Linked DNA regions of Homo sapiens: region 2 is linked to region 1. The links come from fine-mapping of genetic effects on gene expression. A gene starts in region 1. The other region holds a variant in brackets. All regions are shown on one strand. Distances are from middle to middle. Region 1 holds the start of ATG4B (autophagy related 4B cysteine peptidase). Region 2 overlaps ATG4B (autophagy related 4B cysteine peptidase).

Region 1 (12,436 bases):
CCAACACTTCTGATTCCTACTGAGGTTTGTTTCTGGAGTCTGAGAGCCTGGTCGATAGCTACAGGACAGACACAGGCCTGGACTTCTTCCAGCCTCAGTCTCCTCACCCATGAAATGGGGCACAGCCACCAGTTTTCCAAGTGGGGTGAGAACCCACAATGGGTGCAAAACTAACGCTCACAATCACTAACATCTGCAGATCGACCAACACGATGATTCCATTCCCAAACGTTCCTTCTGGCTCTGTCACCCAAGGGTCTGGCTCTGTCACCCAAGCTGGAGTGCAGTGGTGTGATCTCAGCTCACTGCAACCTCCCCCTTCCGGCCTCAAGGGATCCTCCCACCTCAGCCTCCTGAGTAGCTGGGACTACAGGCATGCACCGTCATGCCTAATTTTTGTATTTTTTGTAGAGGTGGGGTTTCCCTATGTTAAGCAGGCTGGTCTCAAACTCCTGGGCTCCAGTGATCCACCCACCTCAGCCTCCCAAAGTGCTGGGACTACAAGTGTGAGCCACCACACTTGTTCCTTCACTGACTCTCAGATGTATGAGATCCACTTAGGCCTGACACCAGCTGCCTCAGCAATTCGCCATGGAGAGGTTCCCTTGTCTTATTTCATAGCCCCTGTCATAATTTCATCATCTTCCCGTGCCACATCATGTGATTTATAAGGTAATTCATGTAGCTCCTGATAGAAAAGGAGTCAAACTTCGGAAAAAATATCCACTCGCCGGGTGCAGTGGCTCACACCTGTAATCCCAGCACTTTAGGAGGCCAAGGTGGGTGGATCACCTGAGGTCAAGGGTTCAAGACCAGCCTGGCCAACATGGCAAAACCCCGTTGCAGTGAGCCGAGATCACGCCACTGCACTCCAGCCTGGACGACGGGGGGGGGGGAAAATATATACATACACACACACACACACACGTATATATATATTTATACATATATGTGTATATATTTATGTGTATATATACGTATATATATGTTTATATATATATGTACATATATACATAAATAAATATATAGACCCATCTCTAGACTTCCAGGTAATGATATTAATTTGAAATAAGATGACATGTAAGGCCAGGTGCCGTGGCTCATGCCTGTAATCCCAGCACTTTAAGAAGCCAAGATGGGAGGATCACTTGAGCCCAGGAGTTTGAGACCAGCCTGGGCAATACAGGGAGACCCTGTCTCTCTTAAAAAAAAAAAAAAAAAAAAAATAGCTAGGCGTGGACATCTGTAGTCTTAGCTACTGAGGAATGTGAGGCAAGAAGATCACTTGAGCCCAGGAGGTCAAGGCTGCAATGAGCTGAGGCCGCAACACCATACTCCAGTCTGAGCGATGAAGTGAGACCCTGCCTCAAAAAAAGATGACACGCAGGAGGAACAAGATGAAGAAGTAGGTTGGGTGTGGTGGTTCACCTGTAATCCCAGCACTTTGGGAGGCCGAGGCGGGCAGATCACTTGAGGTCAGAAGTTCGAGAACAGCCTGGCCAACATGGTGAAACCCCATCTCTACTAAAAATATAAAAAAGTTAGCCAGGCATGGTGGTGCACACCTGTAATCCCAGCTACTCGGGAGGCTGAGGCAGGAGAATCTCTTGAACCCAGGAGGCGAAGGCTGCAGTGAGCTGAGATAGAGCCACTGCACTCCAGCCAGTCTGGGCGACAGTGAGACTCCGTCTTAAAAAAAAAAAAAAAAAAAAAAAAAAGGACGGAGAGGTGCTGTACACCTTAAGAAAGAGTCCCCCTTAGAAGCAGTTCTCCCATTTGGTCGGCTGGATCCCAGACACTTGATTTTCCACGCCCTCTTCCCTGGGACTTCTGCGATCACAAGCAGAAGAGGGCAGATGGCATTTTAATAATATAGTAATTCCATCAGAAAAAACATGTGACTTAGTACTACTAATCTGACAGGCAGAAATGTAGGGAATTGTACTCAATGAATTTAACCAACTTCTCTCCATTTAGTACCAATTACACTTCATTCAACCAGAGAGGACTACAAAAAAAAACGAGTAAATTTAAGAGCTTACTGTAAACCACTTCATTTCGAAGAAACCTTCCTAAAACACTTAGAAGTTATTTTCCAAAAGATTTATATTTTATAAATTCAACAAAGGTTCTTCTTTTCCTTTAGAAAGCTCTTAGGTTTAAGATAACAGTTTGCATATGATTACTACTTTTTTTTAAATCTCCAAGAGTTTACATGAGAATGCTAGTAGTTCAGTCCTGAATGAAAACAGAGAAAGAGAGAAAGGAACTCCAAATTTAGCTACATCAGAAAGCTAGAAAACACTGTTTCAGTGCACACACTGGGCAGATTGCGCACATTAAAACCCACTCCCCTAGATCGCGCCCACCGCACTCCAGCCTGGGAAACAGAGCAAGACTCCATCTCAAGAAAAAAAAAAAAACCACTCCCCAGCAGCCTCTGCATTCATTACATGTTATGCTAACATACTGGATTTATGTTAAACTCTACAAACTGAAAGCTTTGATAGTAGGGGAATGTGTAGGTTATTATTAATTCAAGTTCTGTTTTTTTTTTATTACCAACCACATGCCAGACACAAGTGATGCACTAGAAATGCAAGCACAAGACACCAGCTCTGTCCTCAAGGAATGGGCAGTGTGGCTATTTAAGTGCTGGCACCTGCCAGTCGTCTGAATGGGGAGCATGCTTTTAGGGACAGTGCTAGGGACTGGTGGAGAACACAGCCACACTGTGGTCTGCCTGCCACCTCCTGGACCTCTCCACACCCGCAGAGGCCTTTGGCCTCTTTTCTTTCCCACCCACATTCACACCCTGGGTGACCTCATCTGATGTGACCTCCAGTCTATCTCCAGCCCAGGCTTATTCTTTTAGCTCCAAACCTGTAGACCCAAAAGCCCACTGGACACTGCTCTACAAGGATGTCTAACATCCACCTCACATTCAACACACATAAATCCAAACTCGCAACAGAAAGCTTCCCACCAGACAGGACCTCCCCAAGTCTTCCCCATCTGAGTTTCTTTTTTTTTTTTTTTTTGAGACAGAGTCTCGCTCTGTCGCCCAGGCTGGAGTGCAGTGGCGCAGTCTTGGCTCACTGCAAGCTCCGCCTCCCGGGTTCACGCCATTCTCCTGCCTCAGCCTCCTGCGTAGCTGGGATCACAGGCGCCCGCCACTATGCCCGGCTAATTTTTTGTATTTTTAGTAGCGACGGGGTTTCACCGTGTTAGCCAGGATGGTCTCGATCTCCTGACCTTGTGATCCGCCCACCTCGGCCTCTCAAAGTGCTGGGATTACAGGCGTGAGCCACCACGCCCGCCCCCCTCCATCTGAGTTGCTTAGCTCAGGCCATACACTATGGGGCCATCTTTAACTCCTCCCTCTCTACCCATCCCTCTCCCAACTTCCAATCTACAAACAAATTCTATTGTCTCAACCTCCAAAACACATGCAGAAGTCAACCTCTTACCCACCCTGAGCTAATCCACTGGCATCTCCTTGCTGGCTTGTTCAACAGTCTCTTAGCTGGTCTCGCTGCCTCTGCCCTTGCCCCTCTGCAGTACATTCTCAAAAGAGATGCCAGAGCAAGCCTGTTGAACACAGTCTATCATGTGACTCCTCCTCTAGAATGAAACCTTCCAAACGGCTGCCATCCTGTTCAGAATAAACACTGAGTCCTCACTATGAGCTGCCATCCTGTTCAGAATAAACACCGAGTCCTCACTATGAGCTGGCAAGGCCCCACTACACTGAGCCTAAGTCACCTTTCTATCCTCAGCTCCTGCTTCTCCCACCGCCACCCGCTGCACCTGAGCCACACCAGGCTCTTGCTACCTGCCCTTCCTCCTACACTGCTTTAAGTCTTCGTCAAAACTTAAACCTTCAGAGTGAGACCCTTCCTGGCCATCCTGGCTACAATTCCAATCCTCCTCATCCTTGGCCCAAATCACCATCCCCCAGGAGCCACGCACTTCGCTGCTAATGCTGGTCTCATGTCTAGAACGTTAGCTACCCCAGGGCAATGGTTTTCATCTATGTTGTTACTTCTCTAGTCCTAGTGTCTAGAACAATGCCTAACACATATCTGACAGTCAGTAACAAACAGTGTATTGAATTAATGACTATCAGAACAGAAACTGTATTACACATGGTCAAGGAAGGCAGAATCTTCAAGAACTCTAGAGATCAAAGGAGGGCAGATCATTAATCATCTCTGAAAGGAAATACAGCATCAAGTCAGAAGGAAAATTCCCCATGATATCCTACAAACATCATATACGTTTTTATCAGCATAAACAGAGACCTTTAAATGCAAACACCTTTTCTACTCTGATCCCACATGCAGCAACATCCAGTGTCCTATTAAAGTATCACCATGTCAACACAGTTGTCAAGGGAAAATAAAAGATAAAATAAAGTATCGCCATGTAACAACATAACTGTTCTCCCAACTTGAACATGATGATTTTCACATTTTAGGTCATATGATCGACACTGAACCGTGTTTTTGACCTTAGCCAAGTCTCTCATATGATACTCCAGCCTCAAGGTATCGAAATGATAGAGGCAGGAGGCAGACAAATCCTAGGCAGAGAGGGGTGGGTCACCAGTGAAACCCAACCTTCAAGCCACAGTTTAAAGCCTGAAAGCCAAGCGACGAGTCTCGGATAAATCCACAGACTGGATTGCGAACCTCTCTTCCTGTTTGGTGCGCTTTCCTCTAATTAATCCCCACCCTTCACCTATTTTACATATACCTACTTTTCTCTAATTGGTTTATTACACTGTTGTGCCCACCTTTGAGTAGTGACTTTGTTTTAACCTTTTTTGCATACTCACAGACAAATCAGCACACACTCCCCATTCTGAGCCTATAAAAGCCCTGGACCCAGCCACACCAAGGGAGACCACCCGACTTTGGGTGGAAGACCACCCTTGAGTCCCCTCTCTGCTGAGGGGTGTTTCATCACTCAATAAAACTATTCTCCACCCTCCTCACCCTTCGATTGTCAGTGTTAAGTGTAGTCTCATTCTTCTTGGACGTGGGACAAGAACTAGGGACCCAATGAATGCAAGTACAAAGAAGGCTGTAACACTGTGGCCCTGGGCCCTCTGCCGGCAAAGGGCAGCCACCCACTGTGACACCCCACGTGACAGGAGGCAGCAAAGGGAAGCAGCGGGGACGGAGCCAGCCCCAGAGCTATAGCCTGGAGCAGGGCAATGGGAGTAACAGGGCTGCTGACACTCTGCAACACCCCCTCTTGGGCTTCAGGGTTGTAAGCACCCCTGCTTGGGCGCCACTACCTTCCCCTTGTCTGGACACCAGAATCCACTGTCCCTTTGTCTGGACGCTGGAGTCCGCCGTGGGAGTTGCTTGCCACATGTCTAGCTGTAAGCTCTGCAGAGCCCACTCTGGTGCCTGCGCTTGAAACAGCTGGCGGGACCCGGCACTCACTCACCCACACACCCACTCCCGCCAGGGGCTGAGCATACAGTCATGGTGGCCATGGTATCCGTGCCATAGTGCAAACCAGGTGCCCACCGGTGGACCAAGTAGATGGGGTATCTCCTGCGGCGAGCCTGGACCCAAGCAAGGCCTGGGCAGGGGCCTCGCCAGCCGGAGGTCTCTGGCTGCCAGAGTGGCTGAGAAAAATCCTGCATCACAAACAATAACACCTAAAAAGATATAATACAACAGTTGTAAAATAGTAAACAACAAATAGTACACAGCTGCAAATAGTTCAACCGTGAATGACGGTTATTCTAAAAGACAAACTTCACAAGATATACACCTGGTCAACATGCTCCTTAGGGAGTCAGGGCTCCTGTTTCCTCCAGCCACCTACCACATTTAAGTGGTGAGCTGCTACAAATCATTTTAATAGATATTGGCAATACACATTACAGTTTTCCAACTCAGATCTTAATAAATTTATGTTGTAGCTACCAGAAAAATAAAAAGTAAAAACAATCCCATTCAGAATGACAGAATTAAACCAGATGAAAATCTTTCTTTACAGATGGGGGATACTTGGTAAAAGGCAAATCAGTTCCCACAAAGAATGAATGAGCTAAAACTTCTGTGTAAAAATATTTCTAGGGCTACTGGGCTAGCGATGGGTTTGGCGCTGACTTAAAATAATCTTGCTAGCAAAAATGGAGCGGAAGCATGAAAGGATAGGAAAAAAACCAACACTCCCTATACACACACACACACACTCCTTCTCTTTCTCTCTCTCTTAGGACCCCAAGAAACTAAGACCCGATGATACAAATTCACTGTTTCTCTTTCTCGTCACGGAAAAGCAGCTTGGAGAATCTACTGGTTACTAAATTGAAGACAAAAACAAAAAAGATACGTATACTGTGATGAACACGTCACGTTTCTCTCCTCCAACCTACCAATAACTTCATAAAAGTTAAAGAGCTTCCATCCCTTCACGCTCAGCTGCGGAAAGGCTACGCTTTCGCCCGCCGCTCGCGTCCCCGGCCCGGACCGCGGCCGCCCCGTTCGCCGCCGCGCCTCTCCCCGCCCGGCAGGCTCCGCCGCCCTCCACGGCCGACCTGGCGCAAGGGCCTGTGCAGCCACAACCTCCGGAGCGCTCCGGACGGGACCGGAAAAGCAGAAGCTCCAGCGCAACCGACGGCGGGTTCCGCGGCGCAGTGCGCCGCCGTCCCCCTCCCGCTCCCACCGCCCACCACCCACCAACACCGCCCCGCGCTCCCGCAGCGCCCGCCGCCCCGGCCCAGCCTGGCCCGCACCGGCGTGCCCCGAGGCGAGTCGCGGCAGCCCGACCCGAGCAGGGGAGGCCAATGATAAGGCGAGCACCTCCTGCGGAAAGACCGACCCCCGGCAACTCCTCACCTGCGTCCATCTTCCCAGTCCGGCCGCCGACTGACCCGAGCGGCGTCGCTCCGACGGGCCAGCAACGCGACGCGGCGACGGGACGCCGCGGGGGCCAATAGGTGTGCCGGCGCAGGCGGCGAAGACGATACGGCGCGCGAGCGGAAATACGCGGGAGCCGCCATTTTGGCGTACGGCCGGGCCGACGCGAGCCCCGGGGCGCCCTGCGGGCGGCATGGGGTCGTGTCGTGGGACGACGGCTGGTTCTGCTGTCCGACGGGACACTGTGTGCCATGGGTGGCGCTTCCTCCTCTTAGAGGACCCAGGAGCAGTTGTCGAGGCGGCAGAGGCGAGCTCTGTCCCCGTCCGAGCAGCCATCTTGCGGTACGGACGTGCTCGGCGCGCCCATGTCGCGGTACGGACTTGCCCCGCCGGGGCGACTCCCCCGCCCGTCTGCCCGCCTGCCGACGGACGCTGCGAGGGGCCTGCGGCGCCCCGCTGGTCCGAAGACGCCCGAACCCGCGGCTGGCGAGGACGCGGGCGGGGGCTGGGGCGGGGGCGGGCCCGCTGCGGGCGCCTGCGCCTCCATCTTGCCGTACGGCGCGGACGCCGCGGGCCGGCCCACGTCCCGAGCCGTGTCGCCGCCGCGCTCCCTCCCTCGGGGCGGTCCGCGGGCGGGCGGGCGGCTAGGGCCGGGGCCTGGCTGCGCGGCTGGGCCAAGGCCCGCGATGGTGATCTGCTGTGCGGCCGTGAACTGCTCCAACCGGCAGGGAAAGGGCGAGAAGCGCGCCGTCTCCTTCCACAGGTACGCGGGCCCCGGGCCGCCACGCCCCCGCCCCGACCCGGCCCTGCGGGGAAACTGAGGCCCCGCGGCCGGCCCGAACGCGGGGGGCGGGGGCGCCGGGCCTCGGCGGCCGGGGCGCGGGGGAGCGGGCGTGGGCGCTGTGTGACCTTGGCCCGGCCGCCGTCTCTGGGCCGGGCGCCTCGGGCAGCGCAGCCGCCCCCACCCCGGCCGCCTGGGTCCGCCCTGCGCGCGATCGATCCGGCCGGCGCCTAGGCTTCAGAAGCCGCACGCTCTGGAAGCGCAGGTCCTGGGCCGATTGTCCTGCTCGGCCGCGACTGCTGACTCTCCGGACCGCGCGGGCCGTCGGCCTGGATGTCTGCGAGCAGGAGCGACCGGGCAGACGCGACCTGCGCCTCCGTAGCTGACAGCCCCCGAGAGGGCTTTCCGGGACTGGGCCCCCGAGCCCAGGACGCGGGTACGCGCGGAGAGTCTACGGGACGGCCGGCTGGGGACGGCATCCTCCTGCGCTCCCTTAGAGCCTGGCCCGGGGCTCTCGGCCGCTTCCCACGTGGGCCCCCGCGGCAGGGCCCAAACCCCTCTAAGGCCTTGTGAGTTCAGCCTATTTCAGTGAGATTTCTGCGGATTACACGCGGGAGGCACCAGAACCGCGAACAGACTTTAAAAACCACTTTGGAGATGTTTCTGTTTTATGTTGCATGGTGTTATTTAAGTTTTAAAGACGGGAATGGCACGTGTTATTTATAGGGTTATTGAAAGTTCACAGTAGTTTGCTGTAAGTCTTAAATCATTACAATGTATTATAAGAATTAGTAACATTAGATTATTTCACAAGTCAGCCAGCGCACTTTCTTGACAATTTCCTTCAGAGCTTGTGTCCTAGAAGTTTTGTTATTGTTTTTTGAAAACGAGGCAACGTGTTGCAACGGTCTAACATGGTATGGGAGGAAAGGACATCGGAATTGGGGGTGGGGGGGTACCTTTGCAGTTGGCCTCACAGTGTTCAGAAAGGAGGTTAGAAGGTCCTGTTGCTTAGAACGGCCCAGTCCATCCTGTTAGGATTTGTCCTGGTCCACACTGGCCTCAGGTGGAGCAAATAGCAGTTAGAACTGACCACCCTGTCCCTTATGTGCACATTAGGGCCTGGTTTTTTTTTCTTTTTTTCTCTTTTTTTTGAGAAGGAGTCTCCCTCTGTCGCCCAGGCTGGAGTGCATTGGTGCGATCTCGGCTCACTGCAACCCCCGCTCCTGGGTTCAAGCTATTCTCCTGCTTCAGCCTCCCAAGTAGCTGGGATTACAGGCAAGCGCCACCACGCCTGTCTAATTTTTTTGTATTTTTAGTAGAGACAGGGTTTCACCATATTGGCCAGGCTGGTCTCGAACTCTGGCCTCAAAGTCCTGACCTCAAGTGATCCACCCGCCTCGGCCTCCCAAAGTGCTGGGATTACAGGCATAAGCCACCCCGCCCGGCCCAGGCCTATGTTCTTAAACACAGAGTTTGCCTTAATGAAGAAATGGTTATGAAGGATCTTTATTAGGTAATAAAGAAATGACTAAACATCCTATTCAGTATCTTCCTGCGCTGGTTGCTTTTTTCTCACCATTTTTAAATTATGGTATAATACATGTAACATGAAATTTACCATCCTAACTTTTTTTGGAGACAGAGTCCCACTCTGTCACCCAGGCTGGAGTGCAATGGTATGACCGTAGCTCACTGCAGCCTCAGCCTCCTGGACCCAAGTGGTCCTCCCATCTCAGCCTCCAGAGTAGCTGGGATCACAGGCATGAGCCACGGCTCCCAGCCTTTCCTACCGCTTTTTCAGTGTACAATTCATGGCAACAAATACATTCACGTTGTTGTGCAGCTGTCACTACCATCCACCTCCAGAATTATTTTTATTTTGTAAAGCGGAATCTCTGGACTCATTAAACATTAATACCCCAGTCCTCCTCTCCCTAGGCTCTGGGAACCCGCATTCTCCTGTCTCTATGAATTTGATTACTCTGAGTACCTCATGTGAGTGGTATCATGCAGTGTTTGTTTTTTTGCACCTGCCCTATTTCATTCAGTATAATGTCCTCAAGGATCATCTGAGTTGGTTGATTTTTTTTGAGGGGAGAAGACCGGGTTTCACTCTGTTCCCCAGGATGGGGAGCAGTGGTGCAGTCTTAGCTCACTGTAACTTCGAATTTCTGGGCTCAAAGAACCCTCAAGCCTCAGGCTCCCAAGTAACTGGAACTGCAGGTGAGCACCATTGTGCCCTGTCCCTGGGCTGGTTGACTTTTAAAAGGAGCATTTTTACTCCTGGAGGTGGGCATGCAACAGGAACACAGAACTGTAGCTCTGGAGTCTTCTGGAGGTCTCCAGATTCTCAGCTGCTTGCGCACAGCCAGGGCTGCCTCCATGCAGTCCTGACCTCTCACGCCCTAGTGTCTGTGGATGCTGGCCCTGGTTTTGGTACCCAGAGTCCTACCTTCCAGGCAAGTTGGGAGGGTTGGTTAGCAGTCAGCTTCTAGGAGCTATTTCCTGCTGTCCTGAGGCCATCCTGGCACTGTCTGTCAGCATCCTGTGTCCCCATTGGGCATTTACCACAGCCTGGGGAGCAGTTGGTTACCTTCTTTCCCATCCGCCCTACAGACTATAAGCTCTGTATGGGTAGACAACGGGTCTTTCAGATTTCTACTCCAGTAATAACTGCAGGTAGAAGATGTTCTTTAAATCTTTTTGAAGTATTTTTTTAAGTGGATGAAGTCAATACGGCTTAGGGTGCGTGCAAAAATACTTGTTTTGCTTTTACAGTTGATTATTTTAAGGGGAGACATTTAATTATTTCTAATTACTTTTTGTCATTTGTCCTGTAGGTTCCCCCTAAAGGACTCAAAACGTCTAATCCAATGGTTAAAAGCTGTTCAGAGGGATAACTGGACTCCCACTAAGTATTCATTTCTCTGTAGTGAGCATTTCACCAAAGACAGCTTCTCCAAGAGGCTGGAGGACCAGCATCGCCTGCTGAAGCCCACGGCCGTGCCATCCATCTTCCACCTGACCGAGAAGAAGAGGGGGGCTGGAGGCCATGGCCGCACCCGGAGAAAAGATGCCAGCAAGGCCACAGGGGGTGTGAGGGGACACTCGAGTGCCGCCACCAGCAGAGGAGCTGCAGGTTGGTCACCGTCCTCGAGTGGAAACCCGATGGCCAAGCCAGAGTCCCGCAGGTTGAAGCAAGCTGCTCTGCAAGGTGAAGCCACACCCAGGGCGGCCCAGGAGGCCGCCAGCCAGGAGCAGGCCCAGCAAGCTCTGGAACGGACTCCAGGAGATGGACTGGCCACCATGGTGGCAGGCAGTCAGGGAAAAGCAGAAGCGTCTGCCACAGATGCTGGCGATGAGAGCGCCACTTCCTCCATCGAAGGGGGCGTGACAGATAAGAGTGGCATTTCTATGGATGACTTTACGCCCCCAGGATCTGGGGCGTGCAAATTTATCGGCTCACTTCATTCGTACAGTTTCTCCTCTAAGCACACCCGAGAAAGGCCATCTGTCCCCCGAGAGCCCATTGACCGCAAGAGGCTGAAGAAAGATGTGGAACCAAGCTGCAGTGGGAGCAGCCTGGGACCCGACAAGGGCCTGGCCCAGAGCCCTCCCAGCTCATCACTTACCGCGACACCGCAGAAGCCTTCCCAGAGCCCCTCTGCCCCTCCTGCCGACGTCACCCCAAAGCCAGCCACGGAAGCCGTGCAGAGCGAGCACAGCGACGCCAGCCCCATGTCCATCAACGAGGTCATCCTGTCGGCGTCAGGGGCCTGCAAGCTCATCGACTCACTGCACTCCTACTGCTTCTCCTCCCGGCAGAACAAGAGCCAGGTGTGCTGCCTGCGGGAGCAGGTGGAGAAGAAGAACGGCGAGCTGAAGAGCCTGCGGCAGAGGGTCAGCCGCTCCGACAGCCAGGTGCGGAAGCTACAGGAGAAGCTGGATGAGCTGAGGAGAGTGAGCGTCCCCTATCCAAGTAGCCTGCTGTCGCCCAGCCGCGGTCAGTACCGGAGCCTCGCGTACCCATGTTCCCTTCCCGTTAGGAGGGGTTTCTCTGCAAGGTGGCCAGCGTCCCCTGAGCATTTCTGGGAGGTGTCACAAGCTCCCTGCGCTCTCAGGAGGAAGCTCTGGTCGTAACCATACCTTGTGGATGAGGGAATCCAGGTTAGAAAGCAGGCCTCACTGCACCTGGTCCCACAAGAGGCATCTGTGTGTGTAGGGATGTAGGCCGTGAAGGAGGCAGGCAGCACGCGTCAGCCAGGAGTGCCTGAACGCCTCCGTGGAGAGTGCACAGGGAAAGATAGCTTCTGTTTCATACCTTATGCAACAGAAATTCCAGATGAGTTAGGAACTAGATGGAAAATAAGAGAGTAAACTCTCAGAAAAAGCAAATATCAGAAACTGTTAAAATCATGAGGAGGTTCTTTCTGTTCACGTTTTAAGGAATATCCTTGAAGTTAAATCATCATGAACATTAATAATTATTTTAACATCTATTCAATTAAAACATCTGTTGAGGCTGGACTCGGTGGCTCACACCTGTAATCCCAGTACTTTGGGAGGCTAAGGTGGGCAGATCACTTGAGGTCAGGAGTTCGAGACCACCCTGGCCAATATGGTGAAACATACAAAAACATACTACTAAAACATACAAAAACTAGCTGCACATGGTGGTGCACGCTTGTAATCCCAGTTATTGGGGAGGCTGGGGCAGGTGGATTGCTTGAACCTGGGAGGCAGAGGTTGCTGTGAGCCAGGATTG
Region 2 (10,443 bases), 33 kb before region 1:
CGAAGCTGTCCATGAGGACATCCGCGTGCTCTCTGAGGACGCCATCCGCACTGCCACAGAGAAGCCGCTGGGGGAGCTATGGAAGTGACCCAAGGCTGCCCACTGGAGACGCCTCTCCCTGCAGTCCCCCGAGAGGTGGGAGACTCGCGGAAGGCCCCGTCCCCAGCAGAGTCCAGACCCCACAACTTCAGGAGCTCTTTCCCGGCAGCAGAGATCTGCAGGCTGCCTCTTCTGCCCCGGAGCTGGGGTGCACTGGGGACCCCCGTGGTGGGGACCTTGGCAGTGTGGACATGAGCAGAGCGATGGAGCAGTCTCCTGCCCTCTCCCCTGTCCTGATGGCACTCTGTTGTATTTTCTTACTGAAGTTCAGTGATAACTCTGAGCAGTTTCATTGTGATCACTGTAAATGGTAATCAGTTGGAATTCTCCTAAATGTCTTCCAGACACTAGTAAAAAACGACCTGAAAATTGTTTGTGGAACGCTTCACTTTTCTTAGACTGAGGACGGAGCTGGCTTTGAATGGGAACCTCCATCCCAGGAGAGAAGAGCCTTCATTGGGCCCAGTAGGGCCTTCCTGGACCCTGGTTCCTGCCTAGTTGAGGGAGTCCCACTGTGGGTCTGAACAGTTGCAGCCATGCCCTGGGCTCGCTGGGTCCAGCCAGGCTATATCCGAGTGTCATCACAGCTTACGTCCTGAACTCACCTAAGTTAACTCTGCTATTTTCATTGCAACCCTGGAGCTTAACTTCTCATCCTATCCTTTATTTTTTATTTTTTTGGAAACAGGGTCTCACTGTCGCCCAGGCTGGAGTGCAGTGGCACGATCGTGGCTCACTGCAGCCTTGACCTCCTGGGCTCAGGTGATCCTCCTACTTCAGCCTCCTGAGTAGCTAGGCCTACAGGCCTTCACTGTGCCTGGGTAATTTTTTTGTGGAGACAGGATTTCGCTATGTTGCCAGCCAGGCTTGTCTTAAACTCCTGGGCTCAAGTGATCTACCTGCCTTGGCCTCCCCAAAGTGCTGGGAGTACAGGCATGAGCCACCATGCCGAGCCCATTGCATCCCCTTTTAAGTGACACTTAGAAGGAATGATTTGACACTCCTGGCAGAATCTGTCCCACAGAGCACACTCCGCATAGACAGCAGCATACAGTGTGCTGGAGTAGAAGGCAGGCAGGGTCCCCCATCTGTGGGGGCAGCAGCTGTGGGTCTCAGCACCCTTCTGTGGCCAAGAGACAAACCCAGGCAAAACAAAAGGATTTCACTCTTGGGTAAGCATTGCCAGGGGCTGTGGGATGGGCCTGGGTGAGGAACCTTCAGATGAGACTTTCCTGGACTATCCAGGTGGGCCCAGTGTCATCACAGGGGCCTTTTTTTGTTGTCTTAAGACTGGGTCTCACTCTGTCATCCAGGCTGGAGTGCAGTGGTGCAATCTTGACTCACTGCAGCCTCTCTTTCCTGGGCTCAAGTGATCCACCTTAGCCTCCCAAAGTGCTGGGATTACAGGCTGGCGCCACCATGCCTGGCCCATCACGGGTCCGCATAACAGGGAGGCAGGCGGTCCGAGTCAGGAAATGAGATGCCAACAGCAAAAGCTGGAGAGATGCCATGTTGCTGGCTGTGTGGTTGGAGGAAAGAGCCATGAGCCAAGCAGTTTCTGGCATCCAGAAGCTAGAAAGGCACAGCAACGTTCTCCCCTAGAGCCCACAGCACGATATGGCTGTCTGCCCTCCGGGTCTGGAAGAGGCTGTGCTGTTCCAGGCACTGAATGTGATCATCTTTTAGAGCAGCCACAAGAAGCGAATACGAGCATCGGAGAGGCCACAAGTCCTCAGCCACCTCACCGGGGACCCAGCAGGGCCCCCTCCGATCTGGCTTTGGGCCCTTCACACCTATACCAGGGCTGCCCACAGGGATGCACTGGCCAGAGTGAGCAATGTCCTCACCAAGCCCCCTGCTGTGCCCCAGGCATGGCCTCCCACAGGCCAGGACAGTCACTGCGCACTTGGGGAAGGCTTTGCTATGATTCAAATCGAGGCAAACCCTGCAACTCCAGGCACTTCCTGTGACTTCCTCCTGCTGAAGATGGGAACCGCCATTTTACTTTCCTAAAATCCTATTTTCCTTGCACTTTTTCCTTCTAGGGTTGTATGAGGTGGCTGATGCCACGGCTGGTAGAGAGCCAGGCTGCAGGCAGGACAGGCCCCCTGCCAGGGCTGGGGACACACCTGCTCAGGGCCCCACAGCCCGCCACGCAGGCAGCCACATCCTTTACGTGTGAACGGGCTGAAACATTCACTTATTTTTTTTCTGGAACTCACATTCAATTAGAACTTAAGGAAAAAATAGACACAAGGTTTGTTTTCTACTGAAACTTATTATTTGCCATTAAGAATTGCAAACTATACTACTAAGAATGAACAACATTCTCTTCATTAAGCCTTTTTCAAAACACACGAGACAAAGCTCCCCTTTGGTCAAGGTGTCCCACACATTACCACTGCAGCTCCCAGCACAGCGGCGCACCATGAACTCGGACGTGGAGCCCAAGGAATGGAGATCGCACCAGCCTTCCCTGCTTCCCCACCCCAACTACACCCAAGGGAGAAAGGATACGAGGAAATACACTATGTCTTCAATGCTTGGGGGGCTGGGGGTGTCCTCTGCTACCAGGTGGGCCGGTCAGTGCCGACTGTCCGGCGCGCGTCCTCGGGGATCTCTGGCTCCCCGACCTACACAAGCAGCAGCAGCAGCAGCGAGTCCTGCCAACGCCGCAGTAGCTGCTCATGAGAAAAGTGCCCACGCTCCCCAAGCCCTCCTGTTTACATTTCCTAGTGGGGCAAAGATACTTTCCCAGGACAGGCAGCAGAGCAGCGGGGCAGAGTGCACTCTGGGACCCGGGACAGCAGGTTACACAGGGTCAGGCGGTGGTGGGTGCTGGAATCGGGGCTGAGGTTCTGGAAATGCCACCAGGTGATGCCACCCTGTGGTGTCTGCCCACCACACACCACAAGACTCAAGTGGTTTTCCCCTTTTGGCCCTAAACCACCTAACACCTCAGCGGCATGGGAGGGCAATTCTCAGCAAGGCAAGGACATGGGGAAGGCTCCTGGGAGAGGCACGCCGTCCACCCTCAAGCCTGGCTGTCACAGGTGGAGGCCCCGCCCCCCCCCCGTCACCACACCTGGGGAAGCTGCCACAGAATGCCACAGCACTGGAAAGGGACACTCTGAGGGCAGGCTCCAGCAGCAGCTCCAGGACAGCCAGCCGCCCTTCTGCCCAGGCCGCCCACGCTGTGTCCTGTGCACGCCATCTTCAGGTTTCCCACACACCCACTTCCTGAATACTTTTCTCCCCAAAGCAAGGAGGAACCTCGCCTTCGTTCCTCCAACCTCATCTCCCACTGAGGTAGCCCTTGGTAAGCCAGGCTGGGCAGAGAGGACACAGCGGTGGGCGCGCCCCCCTCGAGAGCAGCCCAGTCCTTGGGCGTGGGGCCGCAGTGTGGCTGCCGCTCCTCTCACGCCAGCCTGCACAGGTCTTCTGAGACTCTGACTCAGGGAGCGCCCAGAAATTCATGTCTGTGTCTGACAACTTCAAACAGGACTTTAATTCCAAACCAACCACAGAACCGGCGCCTGGGAGCAAGTGGGACTGAGGCCCAGGTGCTAACACGGGGCTGGCAGTGTCGAGAGAACACTCTGGAAGCTCCTAACAGACGGCTCCGCGTGCGGATGCACAGGCCCTGACGGGCACTCTGAGCTGGGCAGTCTGACACCAAGCAGTAAGGCCTCCCGGGCAGCGCAGCCTCAGTCCACGAGCACAGCGGGTGGCCCTCTGGGGGGAGGCAGCACGGGGCGCAGCCCTCGGCAGGCGAGCGGGCGGGATGGATGAAACGCAGCGGCACCAGGAGCCCCAGGCTCTCACAGGTGCCACCCCCGACCCCAGGATTTTCAAAGGGACAGGATTTCAAAGTCTTCATCTTCTGAGTCGAAGAATCTTTCCAGTCGCTCTACATCAGAAGAATCTAGAAGGAACAGGACATAGCGCATCAGGCATCTTGGGTGGGCCACCTGGGTGTGAGTCAAGGGCCCTTGGCGTGGGGCAGACTGAGCAGTGCCTGCTCTGCAGCCCACAGACAGCTGTCCCCATGCGGGTGTGAACAGGTCCGGGGGTTGTGCAGACCTGCGAATATGGGGGGAGGGAGCAGAGAAGAGGAGCAGGGCAGGGTGAGGAGGGCAGGGGGCGGCCGGCACAATCTCAGGCCTGAGGGGCCTCTGTCCCGCGTCTGACCCTCGTGGTCATCAGGAGTGGTTCCATTGCCATTGCCTTGTTTGTAGAGTTTCCCACAGGGAGACAGAGATGAGGAGGACGCGCTCACGGCCACTCACTTCACTGCACGAGCCCAGGCCGGCTCCTGCGGCACGCTGGCCATGGTCCGAGGGGTCTACGCCACCCATGGCCAGTGGTGCCCAAGTGAACCAGTCCCCCACCCAGGACTGCGTCACCACAGAGCCTGCATGTTCTGTCTGCTCCAGACCCCTGAGGACTCCATGGTAGCACGCCCAGCTCCACAGCGCCCGGGCAGGCAGCGCTGGTGGGGAAGACGAGGTGGGTCCTGGGCTGCTGGGCGCAAGCTTGGAGGAGGGGACGCTCCACTCCATACCTGGTCTCACAGGCGAACCACTGCCAAGTGCTCACGGCTCAGGCTCACACACACCTTAATGGTCAAAACCAAGGGGGCCAGGACTGGGGAAGCAAGGGCACAGATCGTACCTCCGAGGGACCCCACCTGGACTTGGCAGCTCTCACCTAGGGACAGGTTCAGGACGTCGGGGCAGGCCAGATGTGAAGGCTGC[A/T]GCTCCACCAGCTCAAACATGGGCAGGGCACCTCCAAGCAGAGACAGCTGTTAGTGAGACATGGCCGTTAGGTGCAGCCTCACCCCAGTGCTTGCTGCGGCCAAGAGAAAGGGGCCAGCCGGCCACAGCCAGCGGACAAACCTGTCATCCCATCTCACTGATGAGAAAACAGAGGCAGCTCCACACTAAAGGCTACACGAGAACCCAGTGTGGTGATCAACACACAGCACAGTCTGACCACCACGGCAGAGGGGGGTGGGCCACACGCACTCGGCCGGCGTAGCTCAGCACCCCATCACCACCCCCATCTCAACAGGAGACGGATGAGGACACTGGAAATCCCATTCTAAAGTCAACACGCAACATCCGTCCCCAGGGTTGTTAACTGTGTTGCCAGATGGGCAATCCAGGACGCCCCACCCTGCTCAGCTACATAGCTGTGCCAGGCGGGACAAAGCTCCCCACGGCCCAGTGAGGCTGCCTGAGACCTGGACGCAGGCCTTCGACCCCTGCACGCCCCACTGCCTGTCTCCCTGGGTGGCTCAGCTCGGCTGTGGGTGTGGGGCGGCTACAAACCTTTTTGACTTGCTGGCACCAATCATTGAAGTCATCTTCAGTCTTACAGAAAAACCCCTAAAACGAAATGACGATGAGCAGAACACGACACCCCCATCTGCAGTCGGCTAAGAGGTGGGGGCTTCCATTCCCACTGCCAGTGGCGCAGCAGAGGCCCCCAGCATGCAGGTGCTGGACATTCCAGCCTGCCTTGGCTCCTGTGGCCAGGAACGGAGCTCCGAGGGTGCCCTGTGCATGGTCCCCTGCACCAGTGCCCGGCTCCCCTCAGGCTCCACTGCGTTGCTGTGCCTTGATTCGCCCACGAGATGTTACGTGGTGTGCATCTCTCAAACCTCACCGAGTGTTCCGGGATTGGGGCAGGTTATGAGTTAGGGCCAAGTGGGGAGCTCTTCTCTCTGTGACTGTGAGGCAGGGCCGCTGGGTCTCAGCCTTCGCCCAGCAGCTCCCTGGAAGCTTGGCGGCAAAGGCCACCGAGAACTGCCCAAGGACACCGTGACACAGGGAGCCTCCTGCTGAGGAGCCAGGAGACAGGGGACCGGCCAAGGGTCACCGGCAATCACATCCTTAAAGCTGCCGCCTGTAATGACAGTCACTAGGAATTCTCAACGCTGCCAGATGCGCAGATGTTAACACAAAAAGAAACGAAATGGGGGGAGAAGCTCAAACTGGGCACTCTCTTCCCCTGAAGACACCATTCTGCCGCCTCGGCGCTGGTGTAGGAGCACTCTCCCCCGGGGACAGGGGACATTCCTCCTCCTCACGGGTGAGGACAGTTATCCCACCAGGTGGCCCCTTTGGTCTCAACTCAACGTTCACGCGTCCACTCCTCTGTCTGCGGTGGCTGGCTCTCTAGCCTGACCTGACTGTTAGAGTGCCAATCACTGTAAGCCACCAAGCTGCGTTTACAGTAACAAACATACCTAATTCTAGTTCGACGAGGAATTCGTGACTAGGTTCTGGTAAGAAGTGTGCGCCAGGCTGCGCGCAGTGGCTCACGCCTGTAATCCCAGCACTTTGGGAGGCCGAGGTGGGTGGATCATGAGGTCAGGAGATCAAGACCATCCTGGCTAACACAGTGAAAACCCGTCTCTATTAAAAATACAGAAAATTAGCCAGGCGTGGTGGCGGGTGCCTGTAGTCCCAGCTAATCCAGAGGCTGAGGCAGGAGAATGGCGTGAACCTGGGAGGCGGAGCTTGCAGTGAGCCGAGATCGTGCCACTGCACTCCAGCCTGGGCGACAGAGTGAGACTCCGTCTCAAAAACAAACAAACAAACAAAAAGTGTGAGCCACAGAGCTCCAGCCCATGTTCCCCACTACTGCCACCCTGCCCAGGAGGTGCATGGAGCGTGGTGTGCACTCTGGGGCTGCGCCACAGCTCAGAGACCGTCCCATTTCAGGCCCAGATCTGCCTTCTTCCTCCTAAATGGGGCGGAGCATCCACAACAGAGCCCCCGATTCGGTTAACTGCTTCCCTGAGCATGTCACCGTCATTCATGATTTCTAGGGGGGTTTTTTGGCCTCTTTCCCCATCAAATATATTTGAGGGCAGGCAGGTCTGCATAAATCACACACCAAAAATCACAACTAGGTAATCAAAATGGAAAAACAGGGAAGCTCCTTCTTAGGAAATCCCCCAGAGAGGTCAAGTCAGAGCCTCCGGAAAACAAAAGGTGGTGCAGGAGTGGGTGGGTGGAGGGGCCGCCCGTGTTTAAATGTGGGTGTGACGAAGGTGGTGCAGGGGTGGGTGGAGGGGCCGCCCGTGTGTTTAAATGTAGGTGTGAGGGGGACACACTCACCATGGCTCACACTCATCCATGCACACTCAGCACGCGCCCACACACGCTCACATCCAGACACACGCTCTCTGGGCCACTCGAAGGCCATGAAGGCTGCACAGGAGGTGGTGCCTGGGGGAGGGACGTGAGGGTGCAAGGACACAGTTCCGGCTCTTATACCCTTCAGATTCCCAACCACGTGAACACAGTACTTATCCCAACATGCTGAAAAAAAAAACGCAAAAATCCGAAAGTTTTCCTCGTCATTCCCAAACAGCATTCAGCACCAAATGCCTGTGTGCTCAGGTGGCCGCCACGTACCACAGCGATGGACGGGTCAAGCTCCGCGATGCTCATGCGGCACGGCGGGTGCTGGCAGTGGAAGCTCTCGTCCGGGATGAAGCAGCCATCAGTGGGCTCCACGGCTGGCTGCGTGGTGTGGGGGTCCAGGTAGATGAGCTCCTCACCTGGGAGGATGAGGCAGGTGGGCAGGTGGGTGGCCGAGCCGGCAGAGGAAAGGGACAGAGGAGGCCGCATTTCAGACCCACTGCACCCACATCACACTGAGAAGCAGTGGGCAGGAGGTGGGGAGGGAGCCGAGGGCACCAGACCATCAGGGAAAGGGGCACACAGGAGGCCGCCCGCGACCAGGCTGAAAATGAACCCCAGGGCATGCTGCTTTTCCACCAGTGGCCTCAAGTGGTCACCTGGGGTGTGGTACCTGCTCATGGAATGCCCTTAAAAGGCCCAGGCCCACAGGGACACGGTGGGAACCCTGGACTCACCAACGTAGCCGATGAAGTAGTGGGCGCTGTTGGGCTTCCCTCCGATGACGCCCAGGGACTGGGGCATCATGAAGCAGTGCTGTGGAGGGGCGGGGGACTGAGCACAGGTCCCAGGTGGGAGCAGACGGTCCCCCCACCCACTGCCATAGGGGGCCCAAGGGCCTGCTGAGGCCCAACTGGGTGACACAAGAGGGGACAGGAGGGGACATGGTACCAAAGAGCTTACTGTCCAGGAAAGACCACAGGACATCCCACAGGCACAAGAAACCCAATCTGCAGGCTCAGCTCAGGGAAGCTTCATGTCAGAGGTGGGCTTTGGGGAGGCCGGGAGTGAGGGGGCCTGGCAGGAGATGTGAGCAGGGGTGCGGGAGGTGGCCCTGCTGAGTGCTTTGACCTGACAGGGCAGAAGCGATGGAGACGGGGCCTATGTGTGGGGGCAGCTGAGACCCCACAGGATGGGCAGAAGGCTGGACGGAGGGGCCAAGTTCAGACAACTGAATAATTTTAACAGGAAGCCACATTTCAGTTCCATACAAATGTGACTCCTTGGTCTAAAATTTGAGTTACCTGAAGAAAGGATGGTTTTCCCTTCTGCTTGCTTTTTTTTTTTTTTTATTTGAGATGGAGTCTCACTCTGTCACCCAGGATGGAGTGCAATGGCATGATCTCGGGTCACTGCAAGCTCCGCCTCCTGGGTTCAAGAGATTCTCCTGCCTCAGCCTCCTGTGTAGCTGGGACTACAGGCGCGCACCACCATGCCCGGCTAATTTTTATATTTTTAGTAGAGACAGGGTTTCACCATGTTGGCCAGGCTGGTCTCAGACTCCTGACCTCGTGATCTGCCCGCTTTGCCCTCCCAAAGTGCTGGGATTACAGTCATGAGCCACCGCTCCCCGCCCCCTTTTGCTTTCATGACATGGGGGAGCCTGTGGCTGGAGCTCCTCACACAGCCCTGCCCATCCCCAGGCCCTGCCCACACGTCCCTTCCTCACAGGCCAACCCACCCTCCGAAGGGACCTCAGGCCAAGAGGGCTGTGGGGGAGTGGGGTGGGCATGCCTGGGGCACAGTGGAGACCCGGGAGGGGGCGGGGCTCCCCGTCAGGCCGAGGAGTGGCACCTGGTTCCAAGGACCCCCTGCAAGCGCCTCATGCTTTCATCCTCGACACTCGCCTTGACACTTGCAGAACGAAAGCAGCACGTGCCTACTGATGGACGTGCCTCACGCCCACTCACCCCTTGGGCAACGGTGTAAACCAGGGTTGTTTACCCCTCCCCCGAGAGCCGGCTGCACAAATGGCCACGTGACGACGATGCGCTGAAAGTGACTAAGAACTGGGAGAAGGGGACGGGGACTCAGGGCAAGCGCCGCACGGCAGGACCCACCTTCAGCGTCTCCACGTAGGCCTCGTTGATGTCCGTGAGCCCCAGGCGCAGGGGAATGAGAAGTACCAGGGGTCTCCATGGCGACGGCCTGTTGGTGACCTCAGCTCCGGCAGGGAATCCGTTGCAGTGCCGGTCGGAATCTGCAGGAAACGCAGTGGCGCCTGCACAGGGAACGCTGGTCCTGCACAACCTTCCTAGAAAGGGAGACATGCTTTCACTAACCAAGCAGACCTGTGCAAAAGTGCTCCCACAACAAGCAAGCAAATGATGACTGTGTAACAGAAAAAGGGCGGTACAAAGCCAGGTGCTTACAGTGAAATTCAAACTTGGAAAATATAGAAAAGCGTAAGAAAATTTTTTCATAATCTTGCCACCCAGAGAAAAAAGAAATAGTTTCTATGCATACTTAATTCAAGAGTTTTATTGTGAAATAAAGCACACACACGAAACAGTGCAAGAAAAAGCCACGTGCACTTGAGAGGAAAATCACAGAAGTACCCACGCAGCCTGCCAGCCTGGCTAGTGCCAGCACAGCCAGAACCCGCTCCCTCCGGGCCTCCTCAGCAACGCCTTTCCTCGCTTCCACCCCTTCTGCCTACACACACCCGTGAGTCAATGGTCCGGAGGACACATCAACCGGAGGGTGCGGTGATGGGAGAAGACACTCCGGGAGCATGGAGCATGCCCGGCGTCTAGATCGAGGTTTCTCAACACCACTCCCCACTCAGAGGAGCCAGGCTGATTCCAGGGCCAGGCAGGGAATGTTCAGAGGTGCCTGCAGCATCTGCTTAACCCAGAACATAAGGGAGGGCTCAAAACATAAACGAAAAACGCCAGAACACGGCAAAAGACACCACCAGACTGAGGTGGCCACCGGCCAAAGGTGGAACCGTCAAGCATCAAAAAGATGGACAGTGACAGGTGACAGTGACAGTGACAGGTGACAGTGACTGACAGGTGACAGACAGGTGACAGGTAGCACACTGCACACTAAGTGATGGGAGAAAAGGCGGCTCTTCTCAGAACGCCAACCAATAAACGTGAAAGGAAAGGACAGGCTAGAAAAA

Evidence for each region. PIP is the estimated chance that this variant, and not a neighbour inherited with it, causes the effect.
Region 2: its variant is fine-mapped to the expression of ATG4B in whole blood (TOPMed, PIP above 0.99).

Annotation. Positions count from the first base shown.
Region 1 is chr2:241,632,155-241,644,590 of GRCh38, reverse strand. ATG4B (autophagy related 4B cysteine peptidase) reads right to left here and starts at 6,898. Exons shown (of 13, transcript NM_013325.5): 1 at 6,867-6,898. The coding sequence starts at 6,876. It overlaps THAP4 (THAP domain containing 4), which reads left to right and starts at 7,433. Exons shown (of 6, transcript NM_015963.6): 1 at 7,433-7,650; 2 at 10,512-11,674. The coding sequence starts at 7,574. RefSeq lists enhancers at 5,417-5,950, 6,350-7,277 and silencers at 6,441-6,580, 6,621-6,810, 6,831-6,880, 7,251-7,600, 7,631-7,700 and 1 more.
Region 2 is chr2:241,665,772-241,676,214 of GRCh38, reverse strand. ATG4B (autophagy related 4B cysteine peptidase) reads right to left here. Exons shown (of 13, transcript NM_013325.5): 8 at 9,377-9,570; 9 at 7,994-8,072; 10 at 7,530-7,675; 11 at 5,433-5,489; 12 at 4,810-4,903; 13 at 2,358-4,024. The coding sequence ends at 3,951. It overlaps DTYMK (deoxythymidylate kinase), which reads left to right. Exons shown (of 5, transcript NM_012145.4): 5 at 1-468. The coding sequence ends at 88. Among named protein-coding and RNA genes, the nearest start is that of DTYMK, 16 kb to the left of the region's middle. RefSeq lists enhancers at 7,030-7,529, 7,530-8,031, 10,126-10,443. The variant A/T (reference allele first, on the strand shown) is at 4,857.